Linked DNA regions of Homo sapiens: region 1 is linked to region 2. A link means that fine-mapping ties the variant in region 2 to the expression of a gene that starts in the linked region. Tissue or cell type: whole blood. Region 2 holds a variant in brackets; the other region holds the start of a gene. All regions are shown on one strand. Distances are between the middles of the regions.

Region 1 (7,828 bases), 90 kb after region 2:
CTGAAAAAGAAAGGTAGACTTGAGAATCATCAAAATAAAGAATAAAAAGGAAACAAGTAAACCACATGGTTTAAAAAGAAAGAAAGGCTGGGCACAGTGGCTCACGCCTGTAATCCCAGCATTTTGTGAGGCCGATGTGGGTGGATCACTTGAGGTCAGGAGTTCAAGACCAGCCTGGCCAACATGGTGAAATCCATCTCTACGAAAAATACAAAAATTAGCCAGGCATGGTGGCACACACCTGTAGTCCCAGCTACTTGGGAAGCTGAGGCAGGAGAATTGCTTGAGCCCGGGAGGCGAAGGTTGCAGTGAGCCGAGATCACTCCACTGCACTCCAGCCTGGGCGACAGAGCAAGATTCCGTCTCAAAAAAAAAAAAAAATAAAAATAAAAAAAGGACGATGAGCTATAAAGAGTGCATTATAATTCAAAACAAAGCTTTACAAACATGAAAACCTGCCAAAGGAGATGTCCAAGAGCCAACATCCAGATGGGAAGTATTGAACAAAAACTTGTTTTATATACTAAGGTGAGCATGTGGAAATGTTTTTCCATTTTATAAAAACGTTACGGCCTAATGTTGCAACAAAGTCGAACTGCAAACATCACAAAGAAACCTCAGAGCAATGTCTGAGTTCTGGAAGGAAATAAATTGGAACATACCCTTATTATCCTGGCAGCCTCCAAAAGGATTCGGCAACGCTCCATGCCAGATTTTTGACTCCATATTTTAAAAGCAGCCTTTGCATTTTGAACAGCCAAATTTACTTCCTTTTCTCCTGAACATGTGAAAGTAGCTATCACTCGGCCTATAAAGAGCGGAAACATCAGTTTTAACTCAAATTGTTGCCACATATTTAAATAAAATATTATCTATCAATATTCTCTTAGTAGTAGTCTTTTTTTTTTTTTTTTTTTTTTTCTTGAGATGGAGTCTTGCTCTGTCACCCAGGCTGGAGTGCAGTGGCGCGATCTCGGCTCACTGCAACCTCTGCCTCCTGAGTTCAAGCGATTCCCCTGCCTCAGCCTCCTGAGTAGCTGGGACTACCAGTGCACGCCACTACGCCCAGCTAATTTTTTGTATTTTTTAGTAGAGACCGGGTTTCACCATGTTGACCAGGATGGTCTTGATCTCCTGACCTTGTGACCCACCCGCCTCAGCCTCCCGAAGTGCCGGAATTACAGGCGTGGGCTACCGTAACTTCTTGTTTTTATGTATGGTTTGATTTAGTGACCATCTCTATACTAGCAGGTTTTTTTGTTTTGTTTTTTTGTTTTTTAAGACGGAGTCTCGCTCTTGTTACCCAGGCTGGAGTGCAATGGCACGATCTTGACTCACTGCAACTTTTGCCTCCTGGGTTCCAGCAATTCTCCTGCCTCAGCCTCCCGAGTAGCTGGGATTACAGGCGCCTGCCACCACACACAGCTAATTTTTGTATTTTTAGTAGAGACGGGATTTCATCATGTTGGCCAGGCTGGTCTTACATTCCTGACCTCAAGTGATTCACCCACCTCTGCCTCCCCAAGTGCTGGGATTACAGCCATGAGCCACCACACCCGGCCTAGCAGTTCTTAACTGTATTTTGCGGTCATTGACATTAGGAGTCTGATAAAAGTTGCAGACCTCTCTCCAGAAAAATCTACTTAAACATATAACAGAATTACAGGAATGTCATGTCCCCTGCCCTAAACTCATCAAGGATTTAGAGTTAAGAACCCCTGCCCTCTACTATTTTACAGTTGAGTTTACTAACATTAACTTCTGATTAAGTTTTGCAACACTCCTAAACATTATCTCAGAATCTCAGGGGTCTTGTAAAATGAAAGTCAAAAGTAATCAGTCTATTGGGTTATAAACTCTGACTGTAAATCCCTTGTCTATATTCTATGTAGGTTATATCATACTACTTGATACTTGATAAATATAGTTAATAAGCAGTAATATCAGGATAAGGCAACCCTAAAGGAACATTTTTTTTTTCTCAAAAATTCCCAGATTTCCTTTTCTTATTCCACCTTTATTCCCTCTCCCTATTCTGGTGCAAATTATGAAACAATCAGTTTTTCTAGGCCCATAGCCCAAGGACTGTACTGCCTCTACCAACAAGAATTCTTTAAGTTTGCCAACTCAGCAAATCCTCTTCACAAGAACTCCTGGGACTCTTTCCAGGGAGATTTCACAAATCTGCAATTTCTGTTACAAACTTGAATAGCCAGCTGGTAAAGGCGGTGGCTGAGGATCACACACACTGTAGGCAATTAAAGCAAAGAGCAATTTTTCTTTCTTTTGTATCAGGATTAAGTCGGGGTAGAGAAGCTGTTTCCTCCTATATAAAGAAGAGATGTGATAATGCCTTCTGGCTCTGCCAAGTCACTGCTCTGTGGTTTAGTGTGGATGGTCAAATACTAAATTCTCCAGTCCCCTGCAAATCAGTTTTATTGCTCTGGCTACATTTTACACAAAATATTTACATTTTTCTCCCCACATATATTCCATAAAACCCAGCAAAATAAACACAACACAAAACCAAAACAAAAAGCCCCTTCTTCCTTATCTCTGTGACCTTCAGAGTTCCCAGAGTAAATCCAGTGCCTAGCACAGTGCTTAGCACACATTAAGCACTGGATTAAAAAGTTTTATTTCAGCAAGATGAATAAATTGTGGAGAGCTCACGTAGACCATGGTGACTATGGTTACCAATACTGCATCATATACTTGAAATTTGCTAAAAGAATAGATCTTAAATATTTCACTATCCAAAAAAAGCCATTAACTATGCAGAAGCAATGGATAATTAGATTGACCGTGGTAACCATTTTGCAAGGTATACATACATTACAACACGTTTTACACCTTAAGTATATACAATTTTTATTTGTTAATTATACTTCAATAAAGCTGGGGAAGAAAGTACTGAATAAAGGTGGGGTTTTTTCCTTTCCCAATTCTGATTAATGTGCAGAAATATTTTAATATTAGAATGTGGAGACAAAGTCCTCATTCGTAGTCATTAGAAACTATCTGTGAGCGTTCCTTCATTCCCAGCACAAATGATTATCTTCCCCACAACCCCGCCCCGTTCTTTTAGAATTCCTCTCCTATGCACACATTTGAAGACAATAATACATCAGTCCTGGTTTTAAAAGGGGGAACAGTTGGCTGGGCTTGGTGGCTCACGGCTGTAATCCCAGCACTTTGGGAGGCTGAGGCGGGAGGATCACCTAAGCTCAGGAGTTCGAGACCAGCCTGAGTAACATGCTGAAAACCCGTCTCTACTAAAAATACAAAAATTAGCCGGACATGGTGGTGGGAGCCTGTAATCCCAGCTACCAGGGAGGCTGAGGCGGGAGAAGCACTTGAGCCCGTAAGGTAGAGGGCGCAGTGAGCTCTGAGATGGTGCCCCTGCACTCCAGCCTGGGCGACAGAGTGAGACCCTGTCTCAAAACAAACAAAAAACAAACAAACAAACAAAACAAACAAAAAAGGAAGTTAACAGAGGCACGACTTCCCCCACCAGTACTTTGCGAACTCTGTTCTGGCCCGGGTAAAACAACTCACGATCCTACCACGCAACTCATCAGCTTTGCTTTTCCTCCCTACCCATCCCTGCCCGGAGGCACTCGCGTTGCCCCAGAATCGCTAGTTGCCTACACACACAACCTTAGACTCTCCACTGTCACTGTCTTGTGCTCAAGTCAACGCTGCAGAACACAGGAAACGGGGGCTGGCCGGGAAATCCGCGCATCCGGCCCCAGGGCGCCCCAGCCTCCCCGGCTCGTTGCAGTTACCGGTTGCTGGCTCGAAAGCTTTCTCGGTACCGGAGGCGTCCGCCGGCTCCACGCGGGCCCCGCCGCGGTAATTGAGCGGCTGCGACACGACGAAGGTGCCAGTGCTCATGGCGGCGACAGGAGAGGGCCGAAGACTGCGAAGAAGCGGGGAGAGCGCGGCCAGGCCTGCTCGGAGAAACATGAGTGGCGGACGCAGCTCCGCGGCAGAGGCTGACGGGCCGCGGGAGGGGCGGGGCCGCGGGAGGGGCGGGGCCGCGGGATCGGTTCTAGGAGATTTTAGGGGCAGTCACTCGATTCCTCTGCGGTCCAGGCCAGGCCCTCCCCTCGCCAGGAGGGTGGAGCAAGACACCACATTCTCCCCACCACCCCGCCATACCCCACACAGTCTCCAGGCGGGAAGAGGACTTCCTTCTTCGTGATCAATATTTGCGTAGCACTTTGCAAGTGTTTTCGGGTTCATCATTGCATGTAAGCATCCTAGGATCCCATTCTTAATCCTATCGCCTGAAGAAGGCAGAGGATTGGAGTGCCAAGAGTCTTTGGTGGTTACTTCACTGCTAAACCACCGTTTCTGTAATTGTATAATGCTTTTTAAAGGGTGACAGTAAAAAGCAAGGGGACTGTGAACGAGATAGATGATATTGTGATCTGAAACTGCTTTTTAAATTCTTAAAGAGAGACTGGGCGCTGTGGCTCTCACCAAGGCTGGAGGATCGCTTGAGCCCAGGAGTTTGCGGGCAACAGAGAGAGATCCCGTGTCTATAAAAAAATAAAATAAAAATAATAAAAATTGGGCCGGGCGCGGTGGCTCACGCCTGTAATCCTAGCACTTTGGGAGGCCAAGGCGGGCAGATCACCTGAGGTCAGGAGTTCGAGACCAGCCTGACCAAAATGGTAAAACCCCGTCTCTACTAAAAATACAAAAATTAGCTGGGTGTGGTGGCGGGCGCCTGTAATCCCAGCTACTTGGGAGGCTGAGGTGGGAAAATCGCTTGAACCCGGGAGACGGGTTGCAGTGAGCCGAGACTATGCCATTGCACTCCAGTCTGGGTGACAAGAGTGAAACTCAGAAAAAAAAAAAATTATCCAGGTGTGGTGGCACACGCCTGTGGCCCCAGGTACTTGGGCGGCTAAGGTGGGAGGATCCCCTGAGCCCCGGGGGTCCAAGCTTGCAGTGAGCTATAATCGTGCCACTGCACTCAGGCCTGGGCAACAGAGCGAGACCCTGTCTCAAAATAAATAAATTCTGAAGGAGCAATGTAAATGCTATTAATGACAAATATTGATAGAAACAGAAGCCTAACATACAGAATACGAAGAGCAAAGGCCACAGGAAAAAGTGTCAGGAAACAAAATGCCTTCTGTAAGACAAAGCAGCCACCCAGAGGCACTCACAGGTCTGTCAGCTGAGGGATCTTGCACAAAGGTTCATTCTTCTCACCAAACTTCCATGCACCTCCAGTAGAGACTTTGACAAACAGAAAGTAATTGGCAATTTGGACATTTCTTTTAGGATTGTTTCTCTTCTGGGGGCTGCTGTCTTTCTCAATGTTTTTTCCTTTACCTGCCAGCTCACCAGCGCAATATTAGGGAGTGTGGTTTTCAGGTTTAGAGTATATATAATGTATTCTGATCAAGTTTTCTGGCACTCTATACCAGTTTGTTCACTTTTTCAGTGCTACTGAGATGTGTAGGTCTTGGTCCTCAGATGGAAACAGCAGTGCCCAAACTCAGAATACCTGAGGCCACACTCACATATTATTTTATTATTGTCCATTGCAAACAGAATTGAAACATATCAGGAGTTGGTGACGAGCAGCACTATAGATTTCCAAGATCACTGAATGGTCATTTAGGTACAGAAACTATACGTCTCAAATTTTATGGGACAATTTCTATTTAAAAGATTCTGTCCCCAACCAATGCATTTTGACTTGTCACATCATAATTCCTGATGTTTGTTTTGGAAATGTGGTCGTGATGTCTATTGAATTAATTCATAGATGATAAGACTGACAAACCTCTGGCCAGGCACAGGACTCACACCTGTAATCTCAACACTTTGGGAGACCGTGGCAGGAGGATCGCTTGAGGCCAGGAGTTCAAGACCAGCCTGGGCAACATAGTGAGACTCTGTCTCTACAAAATATTTTTAAAAATTAGCCGAGCATGGTGGCACAAGCGTGTAGTCCTGACTACTCAAGAGACTGAGGTGGAGGATTGCTTGAGGCCAGGAGTTCAAGACTGGAGTGAGCGATCATGGCACCACTGCTCCAGCCTGGGCAACAGAGTAAGACCCTTCCCCAAAGAAAACAGATCTCCTCCAAAATATCTACCTTTTAAATATCTAGCTGTTCCTCTTACCTATCTGTGCTTTTATTATTAAATTATTATTTTTAACTTTTAGGTTCAGGGGTACATGTAAAGATTTGTTACATAGGTAAACTTGTGTCATGGGGGTGTGTTGTATAGATTATTTCATTACCCAGGTATTAAGCCTAGTACCCATGAGTTATTTTTCCTGATCCTCTCCCTCCTTCCACCCTTATTATTAGATTATTAATGTATTATTTTTCATTAGCAAAATCCAACATGTAGAAAGAGCTTTATAGGTTACAGAGCCCTTTCACATTTACTTTCTCACATGAAGCTCATAATAACCCTACAAAAGAAAAGGAAACTAACAGAGATTGAGCTAGGAGGTAGTATGTGGCACTTTGTCAAATATCTCAGTGACAATCATGCAAGATAGGTTTTATCATCCCCATTGTACAGATGAGGAAACTAATAGAAAGGTCGTAGAGCTTCCCCATAAAGGAGCTAAGGCTGGAGTCCAGCTCTGTGCAAGTCCAAAGTAAATTTCTTCTTACTACACCAGGTCGAGATGTTGACCCCATGAAGGTTGCTATCAAAATTCACTCTTATGTTGGTGGATATTTATCAGAAACCCAGAAATCTGGTTCTAGGGAGATTTAAAGGACATGTAAACTTCTTAGGATATTTGTCAGCACTACCCAGTAAGCAGCCCAGAAGTCACAGAGGATGCTGGCCAGTTTACAAGTTCAGGGTGAAATTCAAAGGGACAAAGATGCCACAAGGAGCAGAAGGAATGCCAAAAGAGAAACACCTCTTAGATGGGTGTGTGTTGGAGGGCAGATTTGGGGGTAAAAAGAGATAGAAAAGGAGTGGAATCATTGCTAAAGGGGTAGAAGATCCAAGGAGAAACTGCCTGCCTCACAACTTGCTTAAAGCCAAACTTGGGTGCCACTAAAGCCCCCTCCTTTTCCACATTTCCTTCCCCAGACAACCAGAGGAGGAAAAGAAAAGCAACTGGATCCCCTTCTGCCACCTCCAGGTCTCCTAAAGGAAGAAGTCCTTGGGAACCCATACTGTGTGATCCAGGGTCCTTCACTGGCCTCTCCCTCAGGTCATCCAGTTGTCAATTTGTTGCTTTGGCTTAGTTTCACCATTAGCAGTACTCTTCTTGGACACAACCTCCAGAGTAAAAGCAAATGCCGGATGCGGTGGCTCACACCTGTAATCCCAGCACTTTGGGAGGCGGAGGTGGGTGGATTGCCTGAGCTCAGGAGTTCCAGACCAGCCTGGACAACATGGTGAGACCCCTGTCTCTACTAAAAATACAAAAAAAAAAAAAAAAAAAAGCCAAGTGTGGTGGCGCACACCTCTAGTCCCAGCTGCTGGGGGGTTGAAGCGCGAGGATCGCTTGAACCTGGAGGCAGAGGCTGCAGTGAGCCAAGATTGCAACATTGCACTCCAGCCTGGGCGACAGAGCAAGACTCGCTCTCCAAAAACAAAAAAAAAAAAAAAAAAAGAAAGAAAAGATCTTTAGGGAGTACTAGCTCTTAGTCTGTCCTCTAGAACTATTAATACATCAAACACACACACACCACATTTATTTTTATTTCCTGAACAATAGTATGTTTACTACTGTTGCAACTCCTTCAGTGGGGAGCCAGAAAACCATCCACACAAAAAGAAAGGAAAAAATTACTCAGAATCCTGTTCCTGCCCATTTTAAC
Region 2 (7,828 bases):
TCCCTCAGTCCTAGGAACTTCCTAGATGGAGTTTGGTCTCTAGACTAGCTATGGGATATCATAACAGCTATGAAGGAATAGAATCATTTTGTGACTTTAACCTATTAGCCCTCTAGTACTGGCCTTAAACAGAGAGACAGGTTTAAAAAACAAAGCCCATGACTCAAGTTAAGGACTCCAGAGCCTGGAAACTCTCTCTCAGGATTGATACCTCTGTTGTTTTTTCAGGACTTAATGTTAGGAACATGGGTTCTCTATATTGGGGGAGTATTATGGAATGAATTGTGTCTCCACAAAATTCATGTGCTGAAGTCCTAACCTCAGAATGTGATTGTATTTGGAATGAGGGCCTTTAAAAGATAGTTAAGGTAAAATGAGGTCATATGGATGGGCCCTAATCCAATATGACTGGTGTCTTTTAAGGAGAAGAGATTAGGACACAGATATACCAAAGGTAGATCATGTAAAGATACCAGAAGAGAATGGCCATCTACAAGCCAAAAAAAAAGCGGTCTTCAAAGAAACCAACCCTGCCAACACCTTAATCTCAGACTTCAGCCTCCAGAATTATGAGAAAATTAATTTCTGTTGTTTAAGCCACCCAGCTGGTGTACTTTGCTATGTAATTCCAGAAAACTAATATAGGGAGAGTTATTAAGACATGTCTCATATTTCTGCCCTTTCCTATTGCCTCCAACCAGATTGTATCTGCTTCCCTGTGTCTACTTGCTGGCTTGGAACTTATTAAGATTGGATCCTTCCTGGAAGAAATTTGCTGATGGAGGCAGAAGGACACTCAGAATTGAAACTGTGTGAGCTTTGGTGCCTGGGATCCTTACTTGCTGTTGCCCATACTTAATTCAAATACTCAATGGATATTTATTATGTCCTAGGGCTATAAGAACATAAGAAAAAGACCCCTGAAACTAGGAAAGAAAGCTTCAAAGAGATGGTCATTTAGACATTTTTAAAGAATGAGAGGAATTGTTGGAGAAGATTGGCATGGGAGAAGAGAATTGAAGCAGAGGGAACAGCATGTACAAAGGTACAAAGATGTGAAACAGAATGACCCGCTGGAGGAACTACATCCTACTGACTAGAATATAGTGTCCATGTGGGCCTGTGGCACAAGGAGAGATAGGAACCCAAACCCGGTTGGAAAATACGTGGGCCTGTGGCACAAGGAGAGAGAGGAACCCAAACCCGGTTGGAAAATACAATCTGGGAGGCAGCTGCGGGGTGTGGAGGAGCCTCAGGTTATTCACTATCTACAGCATGCCCAGGTAGAGTGGTTTCAGCAGTCAGAGAGTGCCCTCAGGCAAAGAATAGCAGCTGCTGACAGCTGGAAATTGTAATCCATGGTAATGGTTGCAGCTGAGATGTGGGTGGGTACCCCCAGCATCTCCTAGATCAACCATACATTTGTGTGAGCCATTTGGTTTTCTCTAGTAGGTCTTGATTTAAGTTCCTGAACTCTGCCCACCACCACCAGCAGCCATGACTTCTTGGCAAGACTCCAAACCCCTCCCTACCTTCACTCTTTAGGTAAGTTGTTTAAAGATGCTATGCCTCCTTGGGAATTTCATTGATTTCCATGTTCCATTCTGCCTGTTCAGCCTCTGCCAACCACTGTCCTGGACTCTCTGGCAGACTGTGCCTTCCTGGTTCTTGTTGGTTACTGGTTGCTTACTGGTTGCAGCCCTATACCTGTTCTTGAACCCCAACTATTGACCCTGTCCTAGGTTTAGTTTACTAACATGGTCTAAATTCTAGTACAGTGATAACTTGAAGAAGCTCAGGCCTAACTTACTAACCATAATATCTTACCCTATTGGAACTGAGCTTTTCCCAAAGAGTACCTCCAGTGTCTTCGCTCCATCAGGATCAGTCAGTCCTACCCTCACCCAACTATCTATAGCCCTAAAGGACCACTGATCATGGCAAGTTAAGGCAATTATCAATAAGGAAGAACAATGATAAAGTATTAGAAGAAGTTAAGTTAAAACCTTGTGTTGCTGAATTTGAAATAGAGAAGTATCAATATTAACTTGTAAGGTATTTTATCTTTTAAAAATTCCCTTGCTCTGTCCACTGAAAAGCCAAGAAATAATGATCAACCTAGTATCAATGAATATCTCTAGAGCCAATATTGTGAATCTGAAATCTATTTTCCATTAAAAGAAATCATGGCTGATTCTAGATCTAGGGCAGGAAATGTACAAGATGAGTCTGGAACATCTTATAATAGAAAGGAAGGAAGGAAGCTACACATGATCATTAGGTGTAGGGTCCAGCCCTACAGGGCTTAGCAGGTGTTCTCCCCGTGTGCAAAGATGAGAGATTGTAAGAAATAAAGACACAAGACAAAGAGATAAAGAGAAAACAGCTGGGCCCGGGGGACCACTACCACCAAGACACAGAGACCGGTAGTGGCCCTTCCCTTTTAGGTAGCCGAAGCAAAGAGGGAAGGCAGTATATGTCAGCGTTTTCTTCCATGCACTTATAAGAAAGATCAAAGACTTTAAGACTTTCACTATTTCTTCTACCGCTATCTACTATGAACTTCAAAGAGGAACCAGGAGTATGGGAGGAACATGAAAGCGGACAAGAAGCGTGACCATTGAAGCACAGCACCACAGGGAGGGGTTTAGTCCTCCGGATGACTGTGGGCAGGCCTGGATAATATCCAGCCTCCCACAAGAAGCTGGTGGAGCAGAGTGTTCCCTGACTCCTCCAAGGAAAGGGAGATTCCCTTTCGCGGTCTGCTAAGTAACGGGCGCCTTCCCAGGCACTGGCATTACCGCTTGACCAAGGAGCCCTCAAGCAGCCCTTATGCGGGCGTGACAGAGGGCTCACCTCTTGCCTTCTAGGTCACTTCTCACAATGTCCCTTCAGTACCTGACCCTATACCTGCCGGTTATTCCTAGGTTATATTAGTAATGCAACAAAGAGTAATATTAAAAGCTAATGATTAATAACATTTATACCAATGATTGATAATTGTCCACGATCATCTCTATATCTAATTTGTATTTTTTTATTCCAACTATTTTCTTTATTATACTGCTACAGCTTGTGCCTTTGGTCTCCTGCCTCGGCACCTGGGTAATCCTTCACCCACAATTAGGGCCATGTTAAAGGAATTCAGGAGTCACTTATTAGCAAAGACAGAATAATTGGAGCACAAGCATCAAGAAGAATAAAAACTGAAATCATTTGAAATGCACCAAATTATGTTTGAATCCATGGGTTTAAAATGTTACCTTTTTAAAAAACTCTATTTGATCACCTGTGGAGTATGATTAGGAAGCAACTTAACTATTTTGAGAACTTTTAAATAAAGGGAAAGAATCAGACACTTGTTCTGCCTTTCGTATATGAACTGAATTATTAGGTAGCCAAATAGTCAGGGGAGGGGTCTTTTAATAGACATTAAAGCTAATAAATTAAGAAACAGTGATTGAATTCAAATATCATTTGAAACCCTTAATATGTTAATAGAACTAGGCAATTAGCATCAATGGCTGCTAACATACACACACACACACACACACATACCCACACACACACATCACACACACATACATGACATTATGTGCTATTTGGTAAAAGGACACAACACAGTATCATCTCCAAAGTAGTCTTGCCAAAAAAAATCAAACCTATCTAATCAAATCTCTAAATCCAACTACTAATTTACAGAAAATACAAGTGAGAGGGAACATGCTAAACTACACCATACAATGTAATTAACAAAATTCATACTGTAGGAATCTATTAATGAAGCAATTTAGTTTATTCAACAAATAAAGTGCAAGGTGAAAGAAGAATATGGCGAATTATAGATTAAAAGAGATTTAAAAGACATCATTTTTTAAACTGATAAAACTTAACTATAGTGTTTAGGGATGCACCCTGGAGTGATAAAGCATTTTTAAAAAGCAAAGAAGCCTAGTGCATTACAAGAATTACTAAAGGACTGGAAGAGTCTGGGTTTTTATTTTGTAATATTTCTAAAACTGAGTCCCTTGAATGCAAATCCCCCCCAAAAAAAATAGAAGGGATTTTTTTTTTTTTTTTTTAGAAGGAGTTTTGCTCTTGTTGCCCAGGCTGGAGTCCAATGGCACGATCTTAACTCACTGCAACCTCTGCCTCCCGGGTTCAAGTGATTCTCTTGCCTCAGCCTCCCAAGTAGCTGGGATTACAGGCACCTGCCACCATCCCAGACTAATTTTTTATATTTTTAGTAGAGTAGCTGGGATTACAGGCACCCGCCACCACACCCAGCTAATTTATATTTTTAGTAGAGATGGGGCTTCATCATGTTGGCCAGGCTGGTCTCGAACTCCTGACCTTCAGGTGATCCACCCATCTAGGCCTCCCAAAGTGCTGAGATTACAGGCATGAGCCACTATGCCCAGCCAGAAGAGATCTTGACAG[A/C]AGAGATTTTAACAATGACAACACAAGCAAATTTCAACGTTTATAATATGGCCTAGTAATTTGTTTTTCAAATTTAATTTAAAGTGATCATTGTAAAATATGCCTCTTATATCATGACTCAGTATACATGTTTGTAGTCTAGCTCAGGATTTTCCAAACTATGGGTCTAAAATAAATTTGGTGGGTTGTTATCAGCATTAAAAAATATCAAATAGGCAGCTTAGGAGGCTGAGGTGGACAGATCGCTTTGAGTTCAGGAGTTCAAGACCAGCCTGGGCAACATAGCAAAACCCCATCTCTACAAAAAATATAAAAATTATCCAGGCCTAGTGGTTTATGCCTATACTCCTAGCTACTCGAGAGGCTGAGGCTGGAAGATTGGTTGAGCCCAGGAAGGAGAGGTTGTAGTGAGAGGTTGCACGCCTGCCTGTGTGACAGAGTGAGATCCTGTTTCAAAAAATAAAATCAAATACGATGAATAAGTACTGGAGACTCAATGAATAGCGTAGTGACTATAGTTAATAACAATGTATTGCATACTTGAACTGTGCTAGGTGAGTATATCTCAAGTGTCCTCACCACAAAAAAGAAATGGTAACTGTGTGAGGAGAGGGATATGTTAATCGGCTTGATTGTGGGAGTCATTTCACAATACATACATACATACAACATCACATCATACAGCCTAAATATATGCAATTTTAAATTGTCAATCCGACCCTTCCAGTTCATAAAGCTGAAAAAAAATCAAGTCAGAAAGAACTGAAGAGAAAATTGAGAGCCAGGCAGGCATTGTGGCCCAAGCCAGCACTTCAGGACGCTGAGTTGGGAGGATCGCTTGAGCCCAGGAGTTTGAGACCACCCTGGGCAACATAATGAGACCTCCTCTCTATAAAAAAGTAAATAAAACAAAATTAGCTGGGTGTGGTGGTGCACACCTGTAGTCCCACCTACTCAGGAGGCTGAGGTGGGAGGATCACCTGAGTCCAAGGAGGTCGAGTCTGCAGTGAGCCAAGAATGCACCACTGCACTCCAGTCTGGGCAACAGAGCAAGACCCTGTCTCAAAAAATAAAAAATAATCACGCCTGTAGTTCCAGCTACTAGGGAGGCTGAGGTGGGAGGATTGCTTGAGCCCAAGAGGTCAAGGCTGCAGTGAGCCGTGTTTGCACCATTGCACTCCAACCTGGACAAGATTGAGATCCTGTCTCAAAAAATAAAAATAAACATAAAAATATAAAAATATGGCCAGGTTTATGCCTGTAATCCCAGCACTTTGGGAGGCCGAGAGAGGCAGATCCCTGGCACCCAGAAGTTTGAGACCCCATATCAAAATTAGCAAGGCGTGATGGTGCCTTTCTGTAGTCCCAGCTATTTGGGAAGCTGAGGTGGGAGGATTCCTTGATCCTGGGAGGTCGAGGTTACAGTGAACCAAGATCACACCACTGCATTCCAGCCTGGGTGATGGCATGAGACCCTGTCTCAAAAAAAAAAAAAAAGAAAAGGAAAAAAAATATATATATATATATATAATAACAGTAAAAAATAAAGAAAATTGAGTCCATCTCATGTGATTAAAGAAAGTATTATTTTTTGGAAAAATGGAAGTATTATTATTTTAAGTAATTATTATTTAAAGGAAGTATTATTTCCAATGTATATATGAATGTGTGAGTTTTTATGAATGTATATACTGGCTTGCAACGTGAAATCAATTTCTTACTGTGATACAATGCCCGCCCTCCATTTGGAAAACATAGCCCTCACTGATTTCACGAATTGAGCTTCATTAGTCTTGATTACATATATGACTGCGAAGTTGGGACCTGGAGCAAGAAACAGCCTGGATTGCCTTCAGAGCAGGGTGGACCTGCCACACTGCAGACCGCTCTTCTTGAAACACAGCCAGTTGTACCTTTCCCAGCTTGTCTACATTGCAACCTCTGGTGTAAAAAATGTTAGTTATGAAAACTAGATACTGTCGCTGGGTGAGAAGAGTTTCAAATTTTAAAGTCTGTTCTTAGAAGGGGCGTCCCGTGGACCTTCAATATACACGTGAAAATAGTGTGAGCTCCTTTCATCTAGCTGGCTTTTCACCTCAGGACGTGTTTGTACCGGAAGATGCGTGTTTTCCTCGGGAGTCCTGCAAGGCACCCAGACTCTTTTTTAATTCAGCTCTCCCTTGGTGCTGTCGTTCTGAAGTCCTCAAACTGACATGTCAGAAAATGTTTTTGGTAATTCTTGGCTATATTTTTAAATTTATATTTATGGGAGGTAATAGAGGCTTAGAATTCAAGACATACAAAAGTGGGAAGCTTCCTCTTTCACTCCTGTCTTTGCACCACTCAGTTTCCTCTCCAGAGACAATAAACATTACTAGTTTTTTGTTTGGTTGGTTTTTGTTTTGTTTTGTTCAGATGACAAATTCTAAGTGCCAACCACCACCGTAATTTGAAGCAGAGCCTGGAAACAAGGTTCCTGAAAACTGGTTTTGCAACCTTTGCACTTTCACCACCTGAAGGATGAAAATTTTAGAGAGAGAGTTGGAGATGCATAGATTAGGAGGGAGCTGCTAGAGTGCTTGGAGTCCCACTGCACTCTAAAAGCATCTTTATAGAACATTTAATACTTGTATTGCCCTTATTTGTTTTGTGTATGTGGTTTTCTTGGTTTGCTTGTTTTTTGTTTTTGAGACAGGGTCTTGCTCTGTTGCCCAGGCTAGAGTGCAGTGGTCCAATCTTGGCTCATTGCATCCTCGACCTTCTGGGCTCAGATGATTCTCCTGCCTCAGCCTCCCTCCCGGGTAACTGGGACTATGCCCGTCACACCACCCAACTAATTTTTTTTATTTTTTATTATCATTATTATTTTATTTTTTTTGTAGAGAGGGGGTTTCACCATGTTACTCAGGCTGGTCTCGAACCCCTGGGCTCAAACAATCCTCCCGCCTCAGCCTCCCAAAGTGCTGGGACTACAGGCATGAGCCATGGCACCCAGCCTGTTATTTGTTTACATGTCTTTCTCCTCTCCTAAACTGTAAGCCCCTTGAAGGCGGTGTGGGTGCTACCTCTGGCCCTATGACAGCATCACCTTCTTCTGACCCTCATAACTGAACAAATCTTTGGAGTGTTAACTGTGTTCTTAGAACAGAGAACAGATGTTATCAACCTTGATAATGTAAAAGTAAAAACATAGTTGAAAAATGTAGAGAAATGGAAAGGAGAAGAAAGGGGAGAATGAGCTGTAAGCACAAAGGACAAAAATGGGAGAGTCAAGGGATGGTGCCTTGAGCCCATGGAAAAAGCAATAGAGGGCCGGGCGCAGTGGCTCTACCCTGTAATCTCAGCACTTTGGGAGGCAGAGGCGGGTGGATCGCCTGAGGTCAGGAGT

Evidence for each region. PIP is the estimated chance that this variant, and not a neighbour inherited with it, causes the effect.
Region 1: it holds the start of ALDH9A1, and the variant in region 2 is fine-mapped to the expression of ALDH9A1 in whole blood (TOPMed, PIP above 0.99).

Annotation. Positions count from the first base shown.
Region 1 is chr1:165,694,590-165,702,417 of GRCh38, forward strand. It overlaps ALDH9A1 (aldehyde dehydrogenase 9 family member A1), which reads right to left and starts at 3,973. Exons shown (of 11, transcript NM_000696.4): 1 at 3,789-3,973; 2 at 663-808. The coding sequence starts at 3,969. It also overlaps the pseudogene CA14P1. RefSeq lists enhancers at 3,709-3,938, 3,782-4,364, 4,229-4,408 and a silencer at 3,969-4,158.
Region 2 is chr1:165,604,144-165,611,971 of GRCh38, forward strand. No RefSeq gene overlaps it. Among named protein-coding and RNA genes, the nearest start is that of MGST3, 23 kb to the right of the region's middle. The variant A/C (reference allele first, on the strand shown) is at 4,441.